Linked DNA regions of Homo sapiens: region 1 is linked to region 2. The links come from fine-mapping of genetic effects on plasma protein levels. A gene starts in region 2. The other region holds a variant in brackets. All regions are shown on one strand. Distances are from middle to middle.

Region 1 (2,902 bases), 11 kb after region 2:
GACTTGTCAATGTTGAAGTGGGTTTGTACATCTTAGCCTGTCACTCCCACAGTGGGACCCTAGGTGCACAGCCTGGGCTCTAAATCCTCATGCCAAACTGCTGGCGTCATCATGGGTGTGGGATTGATGGAAACATAACAGCACTTGGGACGCCGTGAAGGACAGGGCTAGGAGTGCTGTTTTGTGCTCTCGCCTTTCCATACACAGCTCCAGAGTTGGGGTGGGCCACAGAGGGGAGGGAGCCAGCAGCCTGGCCATTTTCCCTGGGAAACAAACTCTGTCCCAGCAGTGACACTGGGAGAGGGCATGGGAGCAGGTTTCTCTGACAACCTTATCTCCTTTCTTGTGTCAACATCCATGGTGTCAGTGGGACCCAAACTCCCCGGGAGATGACTGTGGGAGGCCCTGTGAGCTTCCTATCACTGCACCAGCATGGCTTGTCTCTGGGCTCTGGCTGAGTCTGCAGGGTCATTCTCCACTCAAGTGATTCCTCTGCCAGATGTGTGGCAAGGCAGGGCGCCCTGCAGACACTGTGTGATGTCCATTAATATGGAAGTGGCTTTGGATTTGTTAATTATGCTTTTATGTGGTTAATAAACGTTTATGCATTGATTGTGGCTTGTGCCAAAGGAGATAAAGCCAAGAGCCTGTTATGAGCTAGAAAGGAGGGAAGAGAAGCAGGAGGTGGTGACCCGTCCTATTGCTTTCTTTCCCCCGTCTGTCCCTCCCACCAAGGGATCACCTGCTGGATCGCCCTGTATGCTGTGGAGGCCCTCCCCACCTGCCCTTTCTCCTGCAAGTGTGACAGCCGCAGCCTGGAGGTGGACTGCAGTGGCCTTGGCCTCACCACGGTGCCCCCAGACGTGCCCGCAGCCACCCGAACCCTCTTGCTCTTGAACAATAAGCTGAGTGCCCTGCCAAGCTGGGCTTTCGCCAACCTCTCCAGCCTGCAGCGGTTGGACCTGTCCAACAACTTCCTGGACCGGCTGCCCCGCTCCATTTTCGGGGACCTGACGAATCTGACTGAGCTTCAGCTGCGCAATAACAGCATCAGGACCCTGGACAGGGACCTGCTGCGGCACTCGCCGCTGCTCCGCCACCTGGACCTGTCCATCAACGGCCTGGCCCAGTTGCCCCCTGGTCTTTTC[G/A]ACGGGCTCCTGGCTCTGCGCTCCCTCTCGCTTCGCTCCAACCGTCTGCAGAATCTGGACCGGCTGACATTTGAACCCCTAGCAAACCTGCAGCTGCTGCAGGTCGGGGATAACCCCTGGGAGTGTGACTGTAACCTGCGTGAGTTCAAACACTGGATGGAGTGGTTCTCCTACCGAGGTGAGCGCAGCCGGCCCTGCTGGGGCCCGAGGGATTGGGACGATCACCTCTGGCCCCACACTTTCCTCCTGGTGGCTGGGTGCTGACTCAGAGAGCAGGCCAGGGGAAAGAAGGGGGCGACCCTGCCTCTGTGCCAGCTCGGCTAGAAAAGTCACAAGCCTCCCCTCACATGAGCCATCACCCTTCCTGCCAATGGGAGAGAGGCTGGTGCTGCTCCCTCCACCCCCACCCTCCCCTCCCTGCTCTGCATCCCCTCCCCCAGCCAGCTCCCCACTTTCTCCTAGGACTCACTGAACTGGATCTCCCTTTCTTAGGTTACATAAGGGCAGTAAAGACACCTGGGCTTTGTATCCCGCCAAGTTTGCCTGTGGGCTTCCCCAGTGTGGTAGAAGGAGGGAGAAAAACAGCTCTTCTGAAGAATACAGCCATCTCTTAAACATCTCCCCTTACATGAGAGGGGAATAGAATGAATCCTCAGTAAAACCAAATCTTCCTTTTGGTGACAGTGCCAACTTCCTCTCCCAAGTTTTATTATCCAAACTTTAAGAAGAAGTCAAATGGGTTAGGCTTTACTTTCTTCCCTTCCCATTTTCTTTAATATGGGAAAGTGCTGTAATGACCTATGACATGATCACATGACATGGGAGAGGAGGGTGCGCAAGATGGTGGTGAGGAGGGCCAGGTCTGCGTCTGAATTTCGGCTCTGCCACCTGCCAGCTGTGTGATCTTGAGAAAGCTGGTTACCCTTTCGCTGTGGCAGGGCCTGGTCTGTAAAGTGGGAAGGAAACAATATCTATTTCGTAGGGTCATTATGAGAATTAAATGTGGCAATGCACGGAACGTGGCTTGAGAGGTGCCCAGCACAAAGTGAGTCCTCAATAAAACGTCCATTTATCCGTTCACTTCCTGGTAATAATCAAATACTAAGTGGACTTGAAACACCATTTGGCACGAAGAAGATGCTCAATGAATGTTTGCTGGGCTAAGGAATCAACATTTAAGTGGTGAAAATAATGCCAATGCTTTTTGTTAAAGTCTTACTACTTTCATTTAATCTCCAGCCACAATTTCAATTATTTCCATGAAATTCTCCTGTGTTAGTTAATTAAAAATGTTTTACAAACTATAAAGTGCCACAAAATGTTAGTCACTATGATCATTTCCCCCATTTTCATGAGCGGGGAAATAATGATTACTACTTATATAGTTTCCAGTTTACCAATGTCTTTTCATGTACATGATTTTAAACCTTACAGCAGCTAATTGAGATAGACCTTCTTATTTTACAGCTAAGAAAACTAAAACTCATAAGTAATTAAATAAATTAAATAATTTTCACAAGATGACACAGCCAGGATTCAACCGTGGGTCTTCCCAGCAGGGAAATGAGGCTGCATCCCTGTCAGCACCCAGCTTTGCATCCCCAGGCAGCACTGATACGTGTTCCTGGGATGTGAGGTTTGCTGCAGGCCACCGAGGTGTCAGCCGCACAGGGGAACTAGGCCGGGTGTCTTCAGACCCTCCTCTCCTGTGGTCGCCGGGAACTGAATTCCCAGCACAAAAATGCATGCCATGA
Region 2 (2,902 bases):
TTTCAGGCCCAGGGAAGAACACGCTTTCATGGAGATGGAGAAGCAGGAAGTATGTTTATGGGGAGGTGGGAGCCTCTTTTGCTTGACAGTGGGATGTGTGGGAGGCACCAGCATGAGAGGTCAGAGGCGGGACTCCCCAGAGGTAAAAGACACTGCAGCTCAAGCCTTGTGCTGCCCGGGGACCCGGCAGAACGGACAGAAGGGAGTGAGCAGGAGCATCCTTCTAGGGGCATCCTGAGTCCAGGGGGTTCTTCTACACCCACCCCAGTCCTGGCTGTGAACCCCTCCAGCAAAGCAGGCAAAATGGAAGAGGGACATAGGACACGGTGATATATCGCTAGCACGGTGCTTCATCTGTCTACAGGCAGTGGACGCAAAGGAAGGGGGATTTAGGGTTCGTGCTCCAGGCTGGTGGGGCCCTGGCTCCCCTCTAGCTTGGTCCCTGACTCACTTGGCCTTCAGATCAGCCACTTCCCATCTCTTAGGATATCAATTTTTCTGACTTGCTTTGTCCTGATTGGTTAAGAAAGAGGCCTCCAAGTTCTTGAATGACAGTCTCTTCCCTTCGCATGCCTGACCCATCACAGATAAGAGCAAGGAGCCCTGAGAAGCCAAGCTCGTCCCTGGCACTGAGAACGGTCTGCAGGCTGCTGCTGCAGGCTGCCCTGTGCCCAAACTCCCAGCCTGCCAACTCTGGCATTCTGCTTCCCTAAGTAGTCCTGGCGTCGGGTGGTCAGACCCTGAGGCTCAGTGACCTCTGCATGACCATGTGATCCCTGGCTTTGTGGGGGCTCAGGGCCCTTTCCTGTAGGGTCATCTGGCACATGGACATGCCTGTGTACCCTTCTTTCGTATGACCGAGAGAAGGGTTCGGTTTTTCCTTCTCTCAGGCAGGATGGGAGACTCTGCCTCGCATGTCTCTAAAACAGGAGAAAGACCAGCTTCCCAGGGGGGCCTCCATCGGAACAGAAGTCAGCCGCTTGCTCTGTGTCTGCGCCTGTCCCTCTTTCCCCAGATGGAGGGGAAGAGAGGAGAGAGGCACAGAAGACAGGTGCAGCCGGGGGGGTGAGGGAGAGCCTGGAGGCGCAGGATGGAAGATGGAGGTGGTGGTGAAACCGCTTTCCTCCTCCCTGTGGTCGGCAGCGATTCATCCACAGGCGCCTTTTTCCACTGAAATGTGAGCGTGGCCAGGGTGAGCGCTGCCCTCGCGGCCGGCCGTGGTGCCTCTGGTGTGCGCCTGTGTGTGCTGCTGCCGCTGTCATCACAGATGCACCCCAGCTGTCACTCCCCGCTCCACTCTGGCTCGCTGCTCGCGCACACGCGTGCGCTCTCCTCCCTCGCCCCTTTCTTCCCTCTCTCCTCTCTCTCTCTCCCTCCATCCCTCTCTTTCCTTCTCAGTTTGTGACTGACCCAGCAGCCCCGTCCCCCGTCTGCCACAAGCAGTCCACCTCCTGGTGCTGTGTGCTGCGTGCCAGCCGCTGCTCCCGCTGAGTGGAGACTCTGGCACCAGTGCCCACTGCGCTCTGCCTGCCGGTGGTGTCTGGATTTCTATAGGAATCCCAGGAGGGTCTTACTGGAGGGTTGAGAGCCACCTGATTGAAGGCGTTTGCAGTCAGAGTAAAGACGGGTGAGTACCGAGTGGCTGGTAGGAAGGAATGGAGGGTTGGTGGGGACAGGGGGTGGTCGGGGCATGGGAAGTGGGCACCGGCCATCTCTGCCCTGCAGGAATAGCTGCAGTTGCTTCCTACCTGCAGGCAATTGCTGGGGCCGAAGAAGCTGCTCGGGCTCAGGCACCTGAGCATCCCAAAGGTGCACGACACTGGGAACTCTGAGCCCACAGTGCTGGGGACAAGAGCTGTGGATTCTGCTGGGAAGTGGGGAGGAGGGCAGCGCTGGCGCCAGATGACAGTCCCGGGTGGCATAGAAACCGGTCCCTGCAGCATGGGAGAAGCAGCCAAGAGCCTTGTGCTGTCGTTGTGCCCGGCTCTGCACAGACAGCCCCAAGAAACTCGGGGGTCATGGGAAGCGGTTGGGATGGCAGTCAGGTGCTGGGGACAGGGCCAGGTCAGAGGAAGGCTTGGGGTGGAGGGTGGCAGGGAGGAGGTCCTGGATGTCAGAGGCATGGGCACAGACCCAGGTCCTGGGCCTCCCTATAGCTTGCCTGCAGGTGGCTGTCCTTGGACAAGGGTGTGGAGGAACCCTCCCCCAGATGAGCATGGGCCCACTCAGCTGTGCATGAAGCCTCCCTGGTGAGGGTGAGGCTGGGAGTGGGCAGGAGAGAGAAGTATCGCAGCCCTTCCCTGCTAGCCCAAGGGCAAGACAGGAGAACCAGGCCCGCGAGAACCTGCTGGGGTGTCCCGCAGCTGTGCACCCAGCCGTCCATCTGCAAATGGGTCAGGGAGCCTTAGTGGGGGCTGGACACTGAGCTTGGGTGGGGGGTACACAGCGGGGCCAGGCCTGCCTGGCTTCTTGACCCACACAGGGGGCATGGACACCCTGAGTAGAGCGGGACAGTTGCTCTCAATCCCCCAGACCCATTTGGACAGTGCTGGAGAGAGGAGCAGCCTGACCAGGAGTCGGAAGTTCACATTCCTGCACCTCCCTGCAGGTCTGGGGCTGGGTTCCAGTTGGCGGCCCTGTCTCTCCCCCACCCCCAAGCTGTCCACATTTCTGGGGGGTGTTGGCACCCGGCTGTCAGGGCTACTTGGGCAGTGTCTCTTTGTGACTCAGATGACACCCCTGCAGCTTAGATAACTGCCTCAGGTGGGGGCGGGGAGGGAGCCGAGCACGTGGAGCTGAGGCGGGGGAAGTCCAGCTGGTAGGGAAACCCGACAGCAGCTTCCGAGCTGCCAAGAAGAGCCCAGCTTTTCCCACCCCCACCTCCCCACCGGCAGAAAGAAAG

Which allele goes with the higher level. Positions count from the first base shown, and alleles are read on the strand shown. Strength reflects both the effect of a copy and how common the allele is.
For the plasma level of the protein whose gene starts at base 1,378 in region 2, allele G in region 1 goes with a higher level than allele A (moderate association).

Evidence for each region. PIP is the posterior inclusion probability: the model's chance that the variant is causal. The UK Biobank Pharma Proteomics Project read protein levels with antibody pairs (Olink). The fine-mapping took linkage between variants from a reference panel, not from the people measured, so its PIPs are less certain.
Region 1: its variant is fine-mapped to the plasma level of the LRTM2 protein (UK Biobank, PIP above 0.99). The variant lies in the coding sequence of LRTM2. If it changes the protein, the assay may bind it differently, which can mimic a change of level.

Annotation. Positions count from the first base shown.
Region 1 is chr12:1,830,200-1,833,101 of GRCh38, forward strand. The region is part of intron 26 of CACNA2D4 (calcium voltage-gated channel auxiliary subunit alpha2delta 4); the gene reads right to left. LRTM2 (leucine rich repeat transmembrane protein 2) reads left to right here. Exons shown (of 5, transcript NM_001039029.3): 4 at 736-1,326. Among named protein-coding and RNA genes, the nearest start is that of LRTM2, 11 kb to the left of the region's middle. RefSeq lists an enhancer at 362-975. The variant G/A (reference allele first, on the strand shown) is at 1,149.
Region 2 is chr12:1,819,188-1,822,089 of GRCh38, forward strand. It overlaps LRTM2 (leucine rich repeat transmembrane protein 2), which reads left to right and starts at 1,378. Exons shown (of 5, transcript NM_001039029.3): 1 at 1,378-1,627. The region is part of intron 26 of CACNA2D4 (calcium voltage-gated channel auxiliary subunit alpha2delta 4); the gene reads right to left. RefSeq lists an enhancer at 948-1,694.